2 separate regions of the Homo sapiens genome follow, and region 2 is linked to region 1. The links come from fine-mapping of genetic effects on gene expression. Tissue or cell type: whole blood. Region 1 holds a variant in brackets; the other region holds the start of a gene. Each region is shown on its reference strand, or each on the opposite one. Region 1 overlaps ZXDC (ZXD family zinc finger C). Region 2 holds the start of MTA2 (metastasis associated 1 family member 2).

What was found. PIP is the estimated chance that this variant, and not a neighbour inherited with it, causes the effect.
Region 2: MTA2 starts here. The variant in region 1 is fine-mapped to the expression of MTA2 in whole blood (TOPMed, PIP above 0.99).

What each region holds. Positions count from the first base shown.
Region 1 is chr3:126,437,851-126,448,143 of GRCh38, reverse strand. ZXDC (ZXD family zinc finger C) reads left to right here. Exons shown (of 10, transcript NM_025112.5): 8 at 6,198-6,379; 9 at 8,417-8,512; 10 at 9,683-10,293. The coding sequence ends at 9,769. Among named protein-coding and RNA genes, the nearest start is that of ZXDC, 33 kb to the left of the region's middle. RefSeq lists an enhancer at 6,266-6,901. The variant G/A (reference allele first, on the strand shown) is at 6,386.
Region 2 is chr11:62,596,860-62,607,152 of GRCh38, reverse strand. It overlaps MTA2 (metastasis associated 1 family member 2), which reads left to right and starts at 5,288. Exons shown (of 18, transcript NM_004739.4): 1 at 5,288-5,730; 2 at 6,464-6,531; 3 at 6,894-6,987; 4 at 8,514-8,631; 5 at 8,763-8,826; 6 at 9,012-9,129; 7 at 9,441-9,543; 8 at 9,738-9,837. The coding sequence starts at 5,703. EML3 (EMAP like 3) reads left to right here. Exons shown (of 22, transcript NM_153265.3): 12 at 54-195; 13 at 939-1,090; 14 at 1,173-1,298; 15 at 1,380-1,511; 16 at 1,973-2,040; 17 at 2,952-3,040; 18 at 3,112-3,209; 19 at 3,337-3,424; 20 at 3,906-4,004; 21 at 4,264-4,394; 22 at 4,475-4,935. The coding sequence ends at 4,678. RefSeq lists enhancers at 3,575-4,284, 4,793-4,842, 6,223-6,272, 5,707-6,417, 8,011-8,150 and silencers at 5,593-5,642, 5,713-5,812, 5,893-5,972.

The DNA.
Region 1 (10,293 bases):
CACAGTTCTAAGCCCAGCACATCTACATCTATTACCCCATTAGTCCTCGCAACAATCCTGTGAGGTGTAGGTCCTCGTGTCCCCACCTTTCTGGATGAGAAAGCTGAGGCAGGAAGAGTTCAGCCAGGGCTGCATAGCTGGTAGGGGCAGGGGCAGCGGCAGGATTGAACCCAAGGCCGGCTGCCCTCAGAGCTGTTACTGAGCCTGTTGGCCACGTGGTATGCAGGAACACTGTGTCTCACCTCCAGCAGGTGAAGCAGGCATGGGAATCCCAAGTGAAATACCAGCACATGGACAGCGGGCGAGGGTGATGTGGGGCGAGGCAGCCTGTCAGCATGATTTGCCACAGCAAATGCCGCAAGAGACGTGCAGGGTCCACAGAGGCCGAACAGGGCAGTTGATGACATTCATCACCTGCTACTGATTTGAAAACATCACAAATATGAATCAACTAGGAACCCAGATTTCCCTAATACTAGAGAGCAGCCAGCTGTCAGTGGCATTTTCAGTGGAGAGATGTTGGCATCCCCCCAAAGCTGGAGGAATGGTAAACCAAACCATTGGCGCAATCTATTTGACACTTTTATGGAAGTCTCTATTTTTAAAGAAGCAGAATCAAATAGAAAGGAGAGAATGATGATTACTTAATGACAAAGTCATTGTCAGGCTTAGAAAACCCAGGGGAATCAACTCAAGCAATTAGAAATAAGAAGGATCAATAGATAGCTAATTGCACAGTACATATTTGTATATATAAAATTAATAGATTTTCCAATAAGAATAATTGTGAAAAACTGACCTTATTCATAATGACAGTAAAAGTAATAAAATATGCCAGGCTCACTCATGACAAGTGTGCTCTGAATGGGTAAGGTCCTGTGTAGGGTCTGCCAGCTAGAGATGCCCAATTCTTGTTCACTTACATACTTTATTCAGTTCCTGTAAAATCCCAGAGTAACTTAAACACCTGTCTACTTTAAGTTCATCTGGGAAGGTAGCTTGGTGAGAATACCCATGAAGGCTGTGAGATGGGAGGAGGCAGTCGGGTACTCAGGGCCTGCCAGATGCCCTGGAGGAGAGAGTGCCCCTGCAGAACAAAGGACCTGTCGTGTGAGCAGCACATCCCTAAGCAAAGGGTGAGCACTCAGCACAGGCAGGGCTGGTCATGTGGGTTTACTCTGGAAGAGATCATTGTGGGTTCCTTATGCTTTCTCCCCTGTAGCTTCACCACCCAAGAAAAACTACTTACAGTGTTTCAGTGTTAAACTGAATGAAACCTACACAAATGTGAAATCTGAAACCTACACAAATGACTTGTTTTTGAAAAATGATAAACATTTTTATCTGCTTTTTGTTCTTAATATGAATATTTTTCCTTGTGGATAAGTATATTAACATATTATATCTTTATAAGAGCTGTGTTGAACTAACCATGTCAGGGACCTAGTGAGTTAAGCCCCAGTGACCTCTGATCTTCCACCCTTGGGAGAATTGGGAAAATAGTCACTTACCTCCTGTTCAAGTGAGGATCTCAGTAGAGGAAGCTCGCATGACCCCCTGTGGTTATCAAGGGAGGGGCCTGAGCCTCATCTGTGCAGATCCTTTCTCGGGGCACCTGGCTGGCTCTGAACTCTGTCCTGTGGCAGGCACTGCGGTGCTACTGGTGTGGGGATGGCATGCTGTTTGAGCCAGGCCCAGTGCTGTTGACCTCACCTAATTCTCGTCATGGCACGGTGAGGTGAAAGCAGTGTGGCCATCTCCATTCACCGCAGATGATGGGAGCTGAGTCACATAGCTGGATCGTCCAGCTCCCAAGCCGGGGCCCTTGACCACTTTGCTATTTACCATCATACCTAGATAGGACTCTTCCTTAAGGAGTCCTTCCTTGCTTCCCAGGAGGTTGCTTGGTGTTGGATTTATACTGCTCCTCTCCCCACTCCTGCAGATTCTCCAGCACAAGCAAGCATTTTGGATAATGATTGAAAATATTGAAGCAAAATGTAGTTCGGTGTTGTTACCTTGTTCTATAAGGGTTTGTGGTTGTCCATTGTGAGAGAGGAATTTGATTTTTCTTGTGACTGCTTTATTAATTAAATTGATCATATTGCATTTGATGCCATGGCGCCCTTTACTAGTGAGGACCCAGGGCTTCATGGTTATCGTGAGGACGTGGTGTGGACCCCATTTGTTTGCTTTGGCATGTCCTTAAGCATCCCTAGATAAACATACTTGCTTAGTTAACCCAGGAAGTTTATGATTAACTTTCAGCCATCTTAAATGTTCACGACATACCACCAGACTTCAGGGTGTACCGTCAGGGATTCTAGGACAGAACACCCTGCTCAGGCCTGGGGGACAACTCAGCAACTGGGGCTTGGCCCCTCCTCCCCTGGCTGCCCTGTTCTCTCACAGCTGTTGGCCTGGACCCCTGCATCCTTTCCAGGTTCATCTTCCAGGTGCAGTCCTTGCTGGAACGGACTCTCTGAGAAGGGGTGTCCGAGCTCATCTGTGGCAGGTTCTCCCCCTCACCCACAGCTGTCCTTCTGCTTGCCAAAAAACGGGGAGGCTGCAACTCTCCACCAGACTTCTACTGCAGTGTGTTGCCTTGGAGTGCACACAAAAACAGGATATCCTTCCAGAGCACCAAACCCAGGGGCAGTTCCAAATACTGGTTTCAGGGAAGCATCCTGTAGAATAATACCGACATTAAAACTTTAATGAGCCGGGCTTGCCAGCTTACCCTTCCTGTGCAGAGATGTGTCTAGGGGTGGACGCTGAGATGTTCTGCTTGAGGTACATCAGAGAGGGGATGTGGGGCATGGATGGACATCTCTCGTAGAAAGTCCTCACCTTTGCCAGCCCTCTGCTGTTGTCAAAGAATGTATTACTTTTCAGGAATGAGCCCTATGTATGTATAAGCGTGAGCAATTCTTTTCAGCTATTGACTTTTTATCCCTAGACGAGTTGTTAGCTGGGAAGAAAAATACCTTCTGATGCAAATTAGTGGTGGTGTTTCTTCTCAGTGTAACTGGTGTCTACAGGACTACCTGAGACACTGAATTAAATGTGCGGATTGAAAAGAAATTCCTGTGATTTTTTTTCATATTGTATGCTGATACAGAAGTTGAAACCAATTTAGCTTGTCATGAGATATTCTCGTTACAGCCTATCTTTTTTCCTGTTGTAAAAGTAATACAAGTAAATTGTTAATAAAGATAGAATCATTTTAGTTACTGGTTTAGGTATAAAAGGAAAGTGTAACCATGTCTAGCAACATTAGTGGAATTATTTCTGATTTTGCACCCAATTCTGATTTTCCCATGATTCGAATGGCACATACATTCTAGCACACATTTTGCAAAGGAATATTAGGATTCAGTCATATTTCTTGCTTTGTAGGTAACTTAGAGCGTGGCGTACACATTTGGCATTGAATCATGATGAATGGCTCAGTTTTATCTTGTTTATGTTATAAAACTTGATAATAAATACTTGATATACATCATTTAAAATCTTGCCTGCTTTTAAAAGAAATCTGGAGAGATACACTATTCACTGCCTGCCTTAATTTATTCTACAGTGGTTTTCATATTATTATTATTTTTTTTTTTTGAGAGGGAGTCTCGCTCTGTCACCCAGGCTGGAGTGCAGTGGCATGATCTCGGCTCACTGCAAGCTCTGCCTCCTGGGTTCATGCCATTCTCCTGCCTCAGCCTCCCGAGTAGCTGGGACTACAGGCACCCGCCACCACCACTGGCTAATTTTTTGTATTTTTAGTAGAGACGAGGTTTCACCGTGTTAGCCAGGATGGTCTCGATCTCCTGACCTTGTAATCTGCCCGCCTTGGCCTCCCAAAGCGCTGGGATTACAGGCGTGAGCCACTGCGCCCGGCCAATATTTCTAATATAATAACATGTTTCAGTATTTTTATTTGAATTTAAAAATGAAGCCAGGCCTTTTATTAGAAAGCAAGCGTAATGCGACTGTTCTGGCTGCAGCACCGGCCCTGCTGCTGGGGCTTCGTGGGCAGGCAGTTCCCCCTCACTTGAATAAACTCAACCTGCAGCTGCAAAGTTGTGATGACACATGAGCATCTTATTTTAAAAAAGTTTTTAATTGACAAGAATAGATGCTGACCATGTCTAATTCTAGCAAGAAGTAATATTTAGACACAAATACATGAACTAACTGGGGAAGAAAACCACCAGTCAGTCCCACTCCTCTTGAAAAGCATTTTTAATATAATTTTGCTTTTAATATCATAATTATCTATCAAAGTTTCTGATATATTTTGTTTTGATTTGTTTTGCATTACTAATAATTGCAGTTGTAACAGTTCAAACCAAAAATGTTAATGCCTAGAAGTTAAATAAAAGTTAAGTTTATGTACATATTTTTATATGCTAGGGTGATAAAAGACTTGAAAGCATAGAAATGCATTCAGGTAAAATTCTGGAGGTAAGTGGGATAGTATACAAGCTCACGGAGGATATAGGCACGCTTCATTTTTTGCAGTTGACTTTTTTTTTGCTTTTTACAAATTGAAGGTTTGTGGCAAACCTGTATCCAGCAAGTCTGTTGGCACCATTTTTCCAACAGCATGTTCTCACTTCATGTCTATGTCGGTATTTGTTAGCAATAAAGTATTTTTAAATTAAGGTATGCATTGTTTTAGACATAATGTTATTGCAGACTTAATAGACTGCAGTACTAGGAACTGATGTGAAGTTTCCTCAAGGAGGGGTGAGTAAGTTTTGTGCCCCAGGCACCTCTCTTGCCCCAGACCCAGCCCTGCTCTTCTGTCTGAAGCAAGTAGAGCAATTAGAAAAAGAGAAACCAGGCGTGGAGAACAGTCAGAGATGATCCAGAGCGAGGGTTGCTGGGTTTTCTGGAACACTGATGGATGAACAGAAAGGAAGTATTTTGTAATGGAAGTGCATCTCCCTGCAGTGAGGGGGAACTGAATCTGTGTTACCCAGAAACCTCCTGGTTAGCATTTGCACTTCAAAGAAAAAGAGCCCTGAGGCACCCAGAAAAGACAGCAGGCTGTGCCTAAGTACAGAGGACCCAAGGTTTGTGCACCCAGTTGGCTTGCCTGCTGAGTGTGAAGCTCTCCGGGACCCAGGGCACTGCGGAAGACAGGAAGGGATCTGGAGTGAGGTGAGCAGGTCAGGGAGACAGCATATGCAGGGCAAGTCAGCTCTCACCCCATGGGCTGCTCAGAACCTTCCTGTCAAACAGCCTCGTAAAAACAGCCTGCCTTGGGCAGCAGGGTCACCCAATTGAATACTTTTATTAGGAATAACTTATATGATAGTCATTGTACAGTTGTTTTTTTGAAGCCGTTCATAGCTGGATCCCACACATCCAGGCAGGGATGTGTGGGCAGAGCAGTGACAGTGCCTAAACTCCTTGGCACTCGCCAGTCACTGTTCTAAGTTTTGATCACATATTTCCTATGAAATCCTCTCCAAAACCTTCCGAGGTTGGGACTAGCATTCCCATTTTACAGGTAGATAATGCTGAGGCCCAGAGCTTGAGTTCCTTTTCCAGATCCCTGGAGCAGAGTGGGTGGCGGGTCAGGGTGAGCCTAGCCGGGGTCTCTGCAGTGCACGCTCTAGGCTACCTTTGGGCCCTTTTGAAGCAGCTCTTGGGTTTGTTATGGGTGTTAAGATTTTTTCTTTTTTCTTTGTGCTTTACTTCATTTCTTAAGAAGCACATATTTGTAAAACCCATGGAGTAGTGACTTGGAAAGGAGCTGGACAGAGGCAGCAGTCCACCCACAGGTGGGGTATGGAGACCGCCCGCTTCCTTCCTATTCCATGATGCTGTGGCTCTGGGCTGTTGGCTGTCCTCAGTTGCGCTTGGGATTCCTGCCAGCCAGCAGCTGCTGGAGTTAGAGGATTCTGCTCTCCAAGAATTTGCAGCTTGTGTCTGATTACCGTACCGTCTGGCAAAAAAATACGTATGATGTTTTTACATTTTTAAAATCAAAATCCTGATGTTTTTTTGTTCGTATGGTTGTTTGTTTCAACCTCTTAACTCTTGATTTTTTCTGTTAAGTGATTTTACGTCTCTTAGCTGTGCAGAATGACAATTAATGGGAAGGCTGTCTTCCCCATAGTGAGACCTTGGTAAGGGCAGACCTGACTGGTAGATTGTAGATTGGGTGTGCTCGTTTTTATATTTCATTTTAGGAGCCTCACAGTCTACTCAGAGAAAAATAAAAGAAGGCAAAATGAGTCCTCCCCATTTCCATGCAAGCCAGAACAGTTGGTTGTGTGGGAGCCTCGTGGTGCCCAGCGGAGGACGGCCAGGACCAGCTCCAGCAGCTGGGGTGCAGTGCGGGGCGCAGGGCGTCCAGGTCCAGCTGGTGCAGGTGAGA[G/A]CTGGCCAGTCACACAGGCCAGCTGTAGGCGGGGTGGGAGGGTCACGCAGGTCTGAGCAGTGTGCGGCATGCTGCATCCCCTGCCCATCGCAGCACCCCCTGCCTGCCTGCCCCTCGTGCATCCTCCCCTGTAGACTGCCCCAAGTCCTGTCTCCTCACAGCCCAGCTCCTCCCTTTTTCCCAGCCTGTCCTGCATCTGCTCAAGCTCTGAGTGTTGCTGGGACCGTGCATCCACTTCCTGAACCTGTCTGTGCACAGCCCTGCGTCTAGCCCCAGAGTAGCCCGCCTCCCTGCCCGAGGCCCCCAGGGCTGTTTTGCAGCAGGATGAGATCTGTTTGAGGCCACCCTGCCCTTCTTCTGCAGGGCTGGGGCAAAAGGGCTCCGCAGGCCGTCTCAGCCACCCCATTTCTAGGGCGGCCTGCTTGTGGCGCACTAGCAGCCTTTCTATGCTGAAGGTGGTGGGGGTCTTTTCAGTGTTTTTCTATTTTCTTTCCTACGAAACAGAGCCCCTCCAGGGCAGGCCCAGGCCCCTCCCAGCCTGTCCGGGCCACAGATACCTGCAGCTGTGGCCAGTTTCCAGGAGGTCTTTGAGCACACCTGCTTCAGCAGCCCTGAGCACACCTGCATCTTCAGTCTCAGTTTGAGGGGCTGGAATGGGGAGGGAAGATGATTTGGAAGGATTTGGGGAGAGAAGAGATATACAAGCCGGGGCTGTCTGGGTTTGGCCCAGGTGTGTGCCCCTCTTCACCACTCCACTTTGTAGATTCCCTGTGGCAGGGGATGCGGTTGCAGGCCCCACGGAAGTGCGGAGGGTGGAGGTGACGCTGGCTCTGAGTTGGGAAACAGGCACGTTTGTGGGTTCAGAGTCCTGGGAGAGTCTCGCCAAGGAAACAGGACCAGGCCTGGGGCTCAGAGAGGCAAGAGGAGGGGCAGCCTGGGCAGAGGTGGGCTGGGAAGGGGGCAGGGAAGAGGCTGCGGGCAGCTGGGGGTGGCCCTGTGCTGGTTGGAAGCTAGCGGTGAGCGTCAGATGGGGGCTGAAGCTTGTCTTAGAGAGGGGCAGGAGCACTGGTCCTTTGTTTCCAGCTTCTGAAGAGGTAAGAACTCCCCAGGAGCAGGGGCAGGGGGAGGGGGAGGACCATCCAAGGAAACACTGCCTCAGCTGGCAGGGCAGAGGTACAGAGTCAGGACCAGAGGCTTGGCAATAGGGAGACGGTAGGGAAGCTGGTGCCACCGGCAGAACAGGAGCAAGTAGGGGGTATACTTTTAAGAGATGCCTGATTAAACCTGGGTTTGAGTTCTTTTTCTGTCCCTTACCAGCTAGCGTAGTCTTGGTTACTTAAGCACTCCGGGCCTCAGTTTTGTCATCTATGAAATGGGAACAGTAGTGCAGACCTTGACACACAGGAGCTTCTCAAACAGAAGGAATGAGAGGTGCAGAGCAGCAGCACCAGGAGCTCCGCTTCGGGGTGTGAATGGCCATGGGCGGACATGCAGGTGCAGGACAGGCGAAGTGTGGGACAGATGAAGTTTCTAGCCTGGACTGTGAGGGGCCTGGCAGCCTCCCCTCTCAGGAGCCCCTCTACCTGCCCTGGTCCTTCCAGCTGGCCCGTAGGCAAGCTGGGGCATGCAGGGAAGGCCCTCTGTGGGGCCCGAGGATTTGCTGGAGAGCACTCTGGGTACACAAGGTTGGTGGGGGTACAGGGCGTGCCAGGGCACCTGCAAGGAGTTGAGGAGCGTGCCTTAGGAGGGAAATCAGTATTTGGGCTGACTGAGGGGAGGAGCTGGAGAGCAGAAGGTTCCAGGCCCAGCAAAAGCTGCTGGGATCAAGGTGACAGAATGAGAACCAGGTGGGAACAGGTAGTACCCAGCCCCCATAAACAATTCCTGCTGGGTCCTCGGGCCTCCCTTGGAATACAGGGGGTGGGCTGGTTCTGCCACGCATTGCAGCTGGAGGAGACTTCTCAGGTGAGACGAGGACCTTTGCTGCACTCTCACAGACATGTGACAGGCCTTTCTGTGTTGCCTTCCCAGGATGACCCCTCCGGCGAAGGTGTCCTGCCCTCGGCCCGCGGCCCAGCCACCTTCCTCCCCTTCCTCACTGTGGACCTGCCCGTCTACGTCCTCCAGGTCTGGATGCCTTACTGCCCTTTGTTTTTCTTATTGAGACTCGCAGAGCCTTCGACTTCCAGAAGCCTGGCTTCACAGCTGCAGGCTGGTCACTGAGGCCGCGTGGCTTGGGAGGCTCAGTGGGTTGGTTGCCAGGATGTCTTGCTGCCTTCTGGAGAAGGTGGGTGAGTGGAGCTCAGATCTGCAGGACGCTGCAGCTCCTGCTGGTAGACAAAGCAGGAGAAGTTAATATGCTCTTGAAAGTGTTGTGCCTAGGAATTCCAGTTAATTCTCTGGGAAGAGGGCTGGCCAGGGCCCAGCCTGTGGGAGAATAGACTCGGATGAATTCAGTAGTTTGCTTACGTGGTTAAGCTAAGGATGGGTGGCAGTGAATGATTCAGAGTTTGATATGAAATAGCGAAAGCGTATAGCTTATCACATTTCTAACAGTTTGCCTTACGTGTTTATATATTTACAATAAGCCATGCAAATTGTGTTTTAGTTTTTTTGCATTCAAATTGGGCTATTCAGCATTTCCCTCGCAATCAAAACCAAACTTGGACAGAAGCACTGGTGGGAGCAGAGGGCCGGGCACCCAGGCTGCAGAGGGGTGAGCTGGAGGGCGGTTTGGCAGCATGGATCAGAGAACTTCAGAAGTGTCTGCTCCATCCTGCCTGGCAGCCCCCTCCTGGGACTGCTCCTGAAAAAATAAGGTAGTGACATAATCACCGTAGCCCGGAGTCAAATGGTGCAACAGCAGGAACACTTCTTGTAGCAGGAGGAGACAGGCTAGATGGGGCCTCCATAGCCCTGGGCCACATCCTGGTCAGCTGTGAGGGCACAGGCGGACGGACACCTAATACCTGGGAGAGTGCTCACCGCGTGAGAAGTGCGGAGAAAGGGTTGCAGAAGTAAAGATGATTTTGTTTCTGTAAAAAGGCATATGGGTATATGAACATGTGAGGGTATACGTCAATGTGCAGACAGAACAATCTTGAAAAATTTACAGTACAGTATTGAGTTCATTTTTCATCAAAGAACATGTGTTTAGAATAAGGGGAGCCTGTAGTTTTGAGTAAGAGAAGTCAGGTATCTCACCACGGGCCTGGTCAGTGTCCTGCTGTGTGGAGCCACAGGATCCCTCTGCCTCCCCTCCCTCCTCCCTCTTCATGACAATGCTTGGTTTTGCAGGAGGTGCTCCCCTCATCTGGAGGCCCTGCTGGACCGGAGGCCACCCAGTTCCCAGGAAGCACTATCAACCTGCAGGATCTGCAGTGACGGCAGCCTCGGCCTGGGCAGGCCCAAGGCCACGGTCTAGGACACACCTTCCCTGAGACTCATGACATGAGCCTGGGGAGACCTCATTTGGTTTCCGTTCAGAAGACCAGCGTAGCCCTTTTGAGACTTTTGGGTACATTTATCAAAAATGTTTTCCTTTTGTTTTACCAGGAATGAGTTCGGGCTATACTCTTTGAAACTGCCTTTGTGAGCAAAGTGCTTTGGCAAGGCAAGGGTCTCCCTCAGCAGGGCTAGGTGCACTACAGCCTCTTTCCCCGTGTCCCGTTGGATCTGAGCTGTGTAGCACTTGTTGCATTACAAAGAAAAAGACTTCTGCAGGAAATAGGGTAGAGAACAGGCTGTCTAGTCAGATGCAGCTTGATCTGTGGCAAAACCAAGTGTGGTCTTTCAGCTTCAGTGTGTTAGCATCCCAGCACCTGGGATGGGGTTTGTGGGCAAGTTGATTTTGCCACACTGTAGGGCCCAGGTGGTCCCATTGCCACCGTGAAGCCAAATTCTAGCCC
Region 2 (10,293 bases), not on the chromosome of region 1:
TTAATCTTTGCCCTTCCCTTTGACCTCTACTGTCTGCTCTCCCCTCCCACTAGAAATACAAGAAACCCAAGTTTATCCCTTGCTTTGTGTTCCTTCCGGATGGAGACATTCTCACTGGAGACTCAGAGGGGAACATTCTCACCTGGGGGCGGAGCCCTTCAGATTCCAAGACCCCAGGCAGGGGTGGCGCCAAAGGTATGTGGCTGGGAGGGGCATCTGGGAAGTGTAGTACTCCAGAGGTTCTGTGGGAACAGAGGAGAGGGTTTCCCATTCCCATCTTTTTTTTTTTTTTTTTTGAGATGAGGTCTTACTCTGTTGCCCAGGCTGGATTGCAGTGGCGCGATCTTGGTTCACTGCAACCTCTGCCTTCCAGGTTCAAGTGATCCTCCTTCCTCAGTCTCCCAAGTAGCTGGAAGTACAGGCACACGCCACCACGCCCAGCTAATTTTTGTATTTTTAGTAGAGATGGGGTTTTGCCATGTTGGCCAGGCTGGTCTCGAATTCCTGACCTCAGGTGATCCGCCCGCCTTGGCCTCCCAAAGTGCTGGGATTACAGGCGTGAGCCACGGCGCCCAGCCAGGTTTCCCACCTTTTTACCTTGAGAGTTGATAGTTCTCTTGGGGGCTAGTCTAGAAGCGTGTGGGCAGCACAGCAAAGGAGAAACGGCTGGAGCTTTGTGTTTGCCAGATCTCAGGTTCAGATTCCAGTTTTGCTATTAGTTGCCTTGCCTTTAGGAAGTTACCTCATTTCTGTGAGTCTCAGTTGTCCTGTTTGTAAAATGGGGAGAATAACAGATGTGTTGGCAGTATGAGGATGAGACATAGTAGTCAGTGCATGCAATGGCTGGGAGTTCTTACTGTATTGCGACAGCCAAGCTGGCCCTGTTTCTCACTCCCCTGCACCCCCAAAACATGATCTACCTGGGGCTTTGCCAACAGAGACCTATGGGATTGTGGCCCAGGCTCACGCTCATGAAGGTTCTATCTTCGCCTTGTGTCTCCGGAGGGACGGGACAGTGCTGAGTGGTGGCGGGCGGGACCGCCGGCTGGTACAGTGGGGGCCCGGGTTGGTGGCCCTCCAGGAGGCTGAGGTGAGGGCTGGGCTGGGGTCAAGGGAGTGAGGGAGAAGAGCAATAGTCAGTGGGCTCTTGACATTCTGCTACCACTCTGCAGATTCCCGAGCACTTCGGGGCCGTGCGAGCCATTGCTGAAGGGCTTGGCTCTGAGCTGCTGGTGGGAACCACGAAGAATGCATTGCTGAGGGGAGACCTGGCCCAGGGCTTCTCCCCTGTAATCCAGGTTGGGGGTTAAGGGCTCAGGGGAGGAAGGGACAAAGGGGTGTGAGAGAGGGGCAGGAGTGACAGTCATGCTGTGCTGCAGGGCCACACTGATGAGCTCTGGGGGCTCTGCACACACCCCTCCCAGAACCGCTTCCTCACCTGCGGCCACGACCGGCAGCTCTGCCTGTGGGATGGGGAGAGCCATGCACTGGCCTGGAGCATCGACCTCAAGGTAGAGCCCTGTGCCCCTGGATCCCCCATGCCACACCCACCAGGACACCTGTGGCCACCACGCCTTCCCCAGCACCTTGCCTTCTGCCTCCCAGAGGTGGCCAGTTTGTACTGGTATGGCTGCACTGGCTACTCAAATATTAATTTTTCTGTACTGACTGGTAAAAGCTGATGCTTCTAGTACCACCTGGGCACTCCCTGCCGCCCCCAGAACCCCTCAGACTTCCTCTTGATCCAGCACCTAAATGGTTAATCTCCAGCACAGCTATTGGCATCAGTTCTGTGGTTAAATATTTTGGTATCACTCCCTGTTCAGGCTCCAGTGATACCCGGGTATCCCTTCCCTCTCTTCCCATCTTCTCCTTGGGAGTAAGTGGCTTTGAAGTTAGGAGGACAAGGGGTTCACTCTGGTTCCCTCACTAGAAAGACATCATCTTGAATTCACCTTCTCCCCTCTCCCAGGAGACTGGTCTCTGTGCTGACTTCCACCCGAGTGGGGCAGTTGTGGCCGTAGGACTGAACACGGGGAGGTGAGAGAGAGCCAGGACTCCCAGGAGGGAAAGCAGGGAGGACTGGGAAGGGTTCCTGGTACTGGGGGAGTGGGCGAGAGTGACCACCTCTACCCAGGAGCCACCTGCGCCTTGGCACTCCTCTGTGCCTCTCCCTGCAGCCCCTGCCACCCGGGCTCCCCTCCTCTTCTGTGGTAACTGTTTCTCCCCCTCCCCCAACCCAGTGTCTCCTCCAAGCCTGGGAGTGGAGGAGGCAGCAGCCCAGGATAGAGAAACAGTGGGAATGGGAGGGGCATAGACAAACACAGGGAAGTGACAGGCTTCCAGCTTGCACAGTGCCTTTGTAGTCGGCCCCTGGTCTGTAGTTTCAGATTACTTTTTCAGACGACATCAGAAGCCCCTCAGCCTTTATCCACACTTAGCTCCTTCCCATTTCTCAGCATAAGAATGCAGTGGTGGCCAGGTGCGGTGGCTCACGCCTGTAATCCTAGCGCTTTGGGAGCTGAGGCGGGTGGATCACTTGAGGTCAGGAGTTCAAGACCAGCCTGGCCAACATGGTGAAACCTCGTCTCCACTAAAAATACAAAAATTAGACGGGCATGGTGGTACGCACCTGTAATTCTAGCTACTCAGGAGGCTGAGGCATGAGAATCACTTGAACCCAGGAGGTGGAGGTTGCGTTGAGATCTTGCCACTGCACTCCAGCCTGGGTGACAGAGTGAGACTCTGTCTCAAAACAACAACAACAACAACAACAAACTAAAAAAGAAGAATGCAGTTGTGACCTGTCTTCTACATCAGAGCCTTTCTGTGTGTGTCTCTGAGCTTCTCTTATTTGCCATCCCCAAGCCTACCCAGGGTGGCCTCCCTGGGGGTCTCCTTACATCCTGCCTTTTCGTCTTCCTATCTGCCTCCACTTCCCTCCCTTCCAGGTGGTTGGTTTTGGACACAGAGACCAGAGAGATCGTGTCTGATGTCATTGATGGCAATGAGCAGCTCTCAGTGGTCCGGTACAGCCCAGGTGGGAGCCACCCCAACCCTGGACTCACATGCGTCCCTGGCCCTTCCCTCTCTGAGTGACTGTATTTGCAGATGGGTTGTACCTGGCCATTGGTTCCCATGACAACGTGATCTACATCTATAGTGTTTCCAGTGATGGTGCCAAATCCAGCCGCTTTGGCCGCTGTATGGTGAGGAAGTTGGGGTGTGTGGTGGGGCATGATAACAGCTGCGAAACTCAGGGGTCTGATGCATCAAGGGGGCTCTGGGGATGGGAAATGGATGGGATACTTTAAAACTCTTGACCTTTGCTCCCAGGGTCACTCCAGCTTCATCACTCATCTTGACTGGTCCAAGGATGGGAATTTCATCATGTCCAATTCTGGGGACTATGAGATTCTTTACTGTGAGTGGCAGTGGAGCAGGACATGGGGAGAGGGTAATTGGAGTGGGTTTTGTGTAGGGGGGGCTGTTAGAGGTGTTGTTAGATAAGGAAGTGGAGATGGGGTTAAAGTGGAGTTGGAATTATATGTAGGAGAAATTTCGTGATTTGGAAACAACTAGTTTCACACCATGTCTTGTTGACTTGAGGGAGTTCAAAAATGCGCTAAGAAAAGATTGTTTGGGAAAAGTTTCTCAGGGCAAGTGTGGAGCACTTGACTTATCTAGGGAGGAGGAACTCGTGGAAGCTGTTAGAACTTCAGCCAGAGCTCAGGACAGGACGCACACAGGGTGGGTTTCACAGGGGGAGGAGGTGATGCTACTACGGTGACCAGATCACATGCCATCGCCGGGTTTCATGCCAGTCTTTCCAGTCTGGCTTTCCCTGGCATCTTCCCTACTGAGGGCAGGGTGAGAGCTGAGCTGGGCGGGCTCCCTCTCCCCAGGGGACGTGGCTGGAGGCTGCAAGCAGCTGAAGAATCGCTATGAGAGCCGAGACCGGGAATGGGCTACCTACACCTGTGTGCTGGGCTTTCACGTCTACGGTGAGCAGGGGCGTGGAAACCTGCTGGAAGGGTGGGGGACAAGGTGGAGCCCAGTTTGGGCTTGGAACGCTGGGCGTGTGTCGTTGGGTGAGAGTCCAGAAACCTGAAGATCCAGCCCAGGAGGCCCCTCGGGACCGGGAAGGCTTGCCTGGAACGCGGCAGTGGGTGGCCGCGGCTGCCGGAGCGCCTGAAATGGTGTAGCTCTGGGCCGTGGGTGGCGGTGGGTAGGAGGTCGGGCTGAGGCCGGCCGCTGTGCTAGGCGTCTGGCCGGACGGCTCCGATGGGACCGACATCAACTCCCTGTGCCGCTCCCACAACGAGCGCGTGGTGGCGGTGGCCGACGACTTCTGCAAAGTGCATCTCTTCCAGTACCCGTGCGCTCGTGCCAAGGTGAGGCCGCGGGGATCGCCGGGGTGGGACCGGTGGGCCCGAGGGCTCAGCCGCCACCGCAACTCTTCCCTCCGGCCCAGGCGCCGAGCCGCATGTACGGGGGCCACGGCAGCCACGTGACCAGCGTCCGATTCACGCACGACGACTCGCACCTCGTCTCGCTGGGCGGCAAGGACGCCAGCATCTTCCAGTGGCGAGTGCTGGGCGCTGGGGGCGCGGGGCCGGCGCCCGCCACGCCCTCTCGAACCCCCTCCCTGTCCCCCGCCTCCTCCCTCGACGTTTGATCGCTGCCTGGCGGGACCGACTGGCCCGGCGGCGTGGCCCCGCCCCGCCCTGCCCTTCCCTGGCCCAATCCCCCACGACTAGGGGCCGACTCTTTCCTGGACTGACTTCGAGACATTCCCGATCGCGCATTTTCCTGGAGGGCGCGAACGGCGCCCCTGCACACACTGTTTAGACCCGCTGGCTGAGCCGGGCAGCCCCAGCCTAGGCCTTGACTCCCGCTGCCTGCTGAGGGGCAATAAACCAGAACCAAAGTCGCCTCCCGGTGCTTTTGTGGGGCGCTGCCGGGCGCCTCCGGGGCTCTGTGGGGTGGGGACGAAGGAAAAGAGGCGTGCGGAAAGGGTAAGGGAGCGTAGACCATTTATGCAAATGACAGGCAAAGCCGCTTGCAAATAACCTGGCGAAGCGCTAAGGCGCGCGAGTCTTTGGGGCGCGAGGAGGAGCTGCAGGGCTCCAGCGAGGACAGAGTTAAGCCCGACTCCTCTCCCGCCCTCGGAAAAGGGGGTGGGGCCGAGCTGCGACGGAAATAGCCGAGCGGTTGCCCGACAGGAGCCGAACTTCTTCCGGAAGTAGCCGATCTGCGGGGTCTCGCTCTCCGACCTGAGCCGAGCAGTGGGCCTTGTTCTCCGGATCGGCCGAAGGTGTTCCGGAAGGAGGCGAACCCTGAGGCGGGCCCGGCAAGCCTTCCCTGCGGCCGGCAGAGCCCAACGACTAGTGGGACTCCGCGGGGGCGGGGGTAGCTGGAGCCTGGCTCTGGCCTGGCAGGAGCCGAGCTCGTTCCGGAAGAAGCCGAGCGGACGGGGGCCAGCCTCAGCGTCCCGGGAGTGAGGCGATAGCTGCGGCGGCGACAGCGCGGGCCGGGATGAACCGCGACGGCTGAGGCAGCGGAGGTGCCGGCTGCGCGGGCCCCAGTGAGACTCCCTCGAAGCGGCAGCCCACCGTTCGGGGCTTTGCCTCGAGCCGAGCCCTGCCCCCGCGAGCCTCCCGGACCCCTTTGTGCGGCCGGAGGCGGCGGCGGGAACGGCCATGGCGGCCAACATGTACCGGGTGGGAGGTGAGTACCGGGCGCAGGGATACGGGGCCCGGGGCGGGAGAGGTTGGGGTAGGGACCTGAGGGGCTCGGCACCGGGTGGCGCGAGGCGCAGCGTATGGGGCAGCGTGGACCGGAGCGCGGACCGGAACCGGAACCGGGAGACGAGGAGAGAGGGTGCGGGGAACCGCGACGCGGCAGGGCTCCGAGACTCCCAGAGAGAAGCTGCGGGCAGCCCCGACGGCACTTTCGGGGCTGCGTCAGGGGCTCCCCGGGGCACGGAGTGGCCTTCGGAACCGGTTCCGAAGGAGCTGACAGGGTAGGGAGGGAACGCGAGGGGCTGGGGCGACGGCTTTGCCACCGCGGGGGAGCCGCCCGGAGGTTTCCTCTTCCCAGGCGTTATTGTGCGCCTCGATTCGAAAAGGTAGGGGCCCTGCGCTAGAGCGGACAATTACTTCGCCGCGACTGGGGTGCAACTCATCGCTGAGTTGTGGGGACTGCAGGGGAACCCCTGCTTCTTGCCTGTTCCTTAAGGCTCTCTTTTGAGTAAAGGATCTAATTTTAGAACTAGGTGCGGTGGGGATGGGGGACATCCTTATTTTCTCTTAGTCTGTCCACTTTCACATCTCAGCGCCCTTTCTACCTGAATCCTTATCTCCTTTTGATCCACTCAGGCCAACTTTCTCTCCTACCCTGGTGCTCTGCGTCTCCCATCTCCTCTGATCTTCGTGGTTCTCCCCCCTCCCTTCCCTTACAGATTACGTCTATTTTGAGAACTCTTCCAGCAATCCTTACCTGGTTAGACGGATTGAGGAGCTCAACAAGGTGAGTGGAGCAGAATCCCTCTCCCTCCCTCCCGCAGTGGTCTCTTCTGAGGTTTCTAACTTCTGGTGGAAGAGAGGATCCTATACTAAGTACCCATTCATATTCGTTCATTCATTCATTGGATGTATTCAGGAAAGGCTATTGAGAGGTTAGCAGGAACTTTACTATTCTGTCTCTTGGGGGCAAAGGAAAGGGATTTGGAAGTCTATCCTTGAATGTAAGTCTTTACTCATATTTTCTTGGGCTTTTTAATTTAGGTCCCTCTGAAACTTACTGTTATTTGTCTCTTTGTGCATTTCTGTTCCCAGATGATCAATTTCCACTGCTACGTTGTTTTGTTTTTGTTTTTTTCCTCCCCTTAGACTGCAAATGGAAATGTGGAGGCAAAGGTTGTCTGTCTTTTCCGGCGCAGGGACATTTCTAGTAGCCTCAACAGCCTGGCTGATAGTAATGCCAGTGAGTATCTTCCTCCCTTTCTTTTTCTCCTACCCATGATCTGAGGCCTGGGCATGTCCCTGCAGGTATTTCCCCTGGTAGCATGCCCAAGGCAGAGGTGTGAGTTTGGGGGTGGGAAATGCCTGGCCTGAGGAGGGAGGCCTGTTTTTACATGTTGGGGTTGGAAGCAGGGTGGAGAGATTGTGATAAGGAAAGCGATAATATGGTTTGTATATGAGAGTAAGAGAGAGATGATAACATTTAGAGTATGAGGACGAGCTTTAGAGAAACAATGGTTTTCTAAAGGGGGGCAGTTTGGGGTACATTGAGACAGTAGGTGATGACTGAAGGTCAACGTGAAGAGGAAGACATTGTACTGAGAAGCCTGCGTAACAGAGAAGCAGGCTTATTTTGTAATCACAAGGTGATGAGAGTACCTGGAAGTTAGAAGATGGCTGGAAGTTTTCTTGCGCTTTTTAATTTCTCACCTCGCCCATTTCCCCGCCCGCCCCCCTCCATTTTACATCTTTCCCTTTTCATTTTGCCCTATCTTCATTCTCTTTAAGGTCTCATCTTCTTTTTTTAAAAAACATATTTTCCTTAGCTTCTTTTTCCTTTCCTGCTTTGGTTTTCTTTTTCCTTCCTTTTGTTCCACCTTTCTAAATTATTTTCCTTTTTCAGACTGCTCTGGGTGAGAAGGGGTTAAAGAGGAGCCCAGCTTACCAAGTTCCTTGGCCCTTTAGGGTTTCCAGCCCCATCTGGCAGGGGCTGACCTTGGCCTTGTCCAATCAGAAGGGGTGTTGGGGGTGTGGTCCCCCTTGCCTCAGCACAGGGTTTCCGGAGCACACAAGCGAGGGGTGGAGCCTACTGCACAACCCCCCCCTTCTCCCTGAGGTTGGGAACAATACACCAATGAGCCTGGGGCTGAGGTTCTTCTGCTCCCTCCCACTTTGGTTGGCGCCTAGCCAGGTTAACCCCTTCCGCTAGGTTTCAGGGCAAGCTGCAGCTCCTTGGGGAGGAAGGTGTTGGCACTGGCTTGAGAGGTGTTGTCCTTGGAAACCCCAGGAACTATTATTAGCCAAGTAGAAAATGAGGGATAGTTAGGGCTGCATGTGATGTTTTAGAGCAAAGAGTCTCCTGAAATTGAAAAGAACTGGTAAACACAGTCTTGTGTGATATTTTTTCATCTTGAGTTCCTGGACCTCAGGCTGGTTTAGCAAGCAAGAGACAAGTGTGATGTTCTTGCTGGCCCGTTGTGGACTTTGGTGTCTGAGTACTGGCAGCTGGGTAGCGATGTATTTCTAGAGCATTCTTCGTACTCTCAGCAGTTCTTCTCTAAAAGCATTACTGATAGAGTTGGGAGCATCTATGATGGGGCATAGAGCTAAGAAGGAAAGCTGGTGGGATAAGGGTATAGAAGGCAGACGCCTGGGAAATGTGAGAAAAAAACAGCCAAGATAGGAAATATTTTCCCTGAGTTAGAGTTTCCAGGGTGGTGTTTTGCTGGATCCATTTCTGACTTGGTTTCTTCCTCTTTAATCTCCCAGGGGAGTTTGAAGAGGAATCAAAGCAGCCAGGGGTGTCTGAGCAGCAGCGCCATCAACTGAAGCACCGGGAACTTTTTCTTTCTCGGCAATTTGAATCATTACCAGCCACCCACATACGGTACAGGACAACTGGGGCCAGCATAGCCTGCGTGCACTTACGTAGAAGATGGAGAGAAGGAGGTGGTATTGAGAGATGCTGTGGGGAGGGAGAGTGGGGCTCACCGGGGTTTTCCAATCTCTCTCCTATAGGGGGAAATGCAGTGTGACCCTCTTGAATGAGACAGATATCTTGAGCCAGTACCTGGAAAAGGAGGTGAGAAAGAGATGTTGAGAGAAGAGCGAGGGGAATGGGTATTGCCCGCAAAAGAGAGGGGGAAAGGAGCACAATGATGAGGTACAGGGTTGCCAGACTGCCGGTCATGGAAACTCAGATACACCTCCCTCCCCGCCGCCTATGTGGATTGCTGCCTTGCTTACCTTGTCTCTCCCCAATTCCAGGACTGCTTTTTTTACTCACTGGTGTTTGACCCCGTGCAGAAGACACTTCTCGCTGATCAGGGCGAGATTAGAGTTGGTTGCAAATACCAAGCTGAGATCCCAGATCGCCTAGTAGAGGGTAAGCAACAGGACAAGACTGTACGGCTACCAGGTTGTCTAATTCCAAGGGGCACTTTAACATTATAGTCTCTGTGAATGGCGTCACCTGGGGTTGTGCAGTGCACTGTCTGCAGGGCTCTCTGCCATGACCCTGACAGAATGGGCCTGTAGGAACCTGAAAAGGGAAAATGGGAACAGTTGGGAAGAGAAGTCGGAGAGTTGATAGAATCCAAGCAGAAGAAGAGAAGGAGGAGGTGCTATTGTGAATGAAAAGACACCAACTGTTCCCCCCTGCCCTCTCCCTGTTGATGCCATTGTTCTTTTCCCCAGGAGAATCTGATAATCGGAACCAGCAGAAGATGGAGATGAAGGTCTGGGACCCAGACAACCCTCTCACAGACCGGCAGATCGACCAGTTTCTTGTGGTGGCCCGGTGAGGGGTGGGTGGATAGGGAAGATGGGCTGGGGGAGGTGTGGACATTGTTCTGAGTCCCATGGTTCTTAGAGATGGACTTTATTTCTTTCATTGCCATGGATGTTTTCCTTCTTTCTCCTTTGGCTTAATTTCCCAGCCCACTTGGGCTTTTGACTTTTCTTTCGCTTTTGACTTCTCAATTTCTCCCTTAGAGCTGTGGGAACCTTTGCAAGAGCCCTAGATTGTAGCAGCTCCATTCGGCAGCCAAGCTTGCACATGAGTGCAGCTGCTGCCTCCCGAGATATCACTCTGGTGAGCAGAAGTTGGTGGGTAGTTGGGCAGGCTGGGTTTTCTGGGGACTTGCAGAGCCTGGGAACAGAAGAGGAGGGTATCTCTGAGGGAGTGGGAGTGTTTTTTTTTTGTTTGTTTTGTTTTGTTTTGAGAGGAGTCTTGCTCTGTCGCCCAGGCTGGAGTGCAGTGGCGCAATCTCAGCTCACTGCAAGCTCCGCCTCCCGGGTTCACACCACTCTCCTGCCTCAGCCTCCCGAATAGCTGGGACTACAGGCACCCGCCACCACGCCTGGCTAATTTTTTGTATTTTTAGTAGAGACGGGGTTTCACCGTTTTAGCCAGGATGATCTCGATCTCCTGACCTCGTGATCTGCCCGCCTCCGCTTCCCAAAGTGCTGGGATTATGGGTGTGAGCCACCGCGCCCGGCCGGGAGTGGGAGTGTTTTAAGGAGCAGGAAGGGAGTGGTGCCAAAAGTT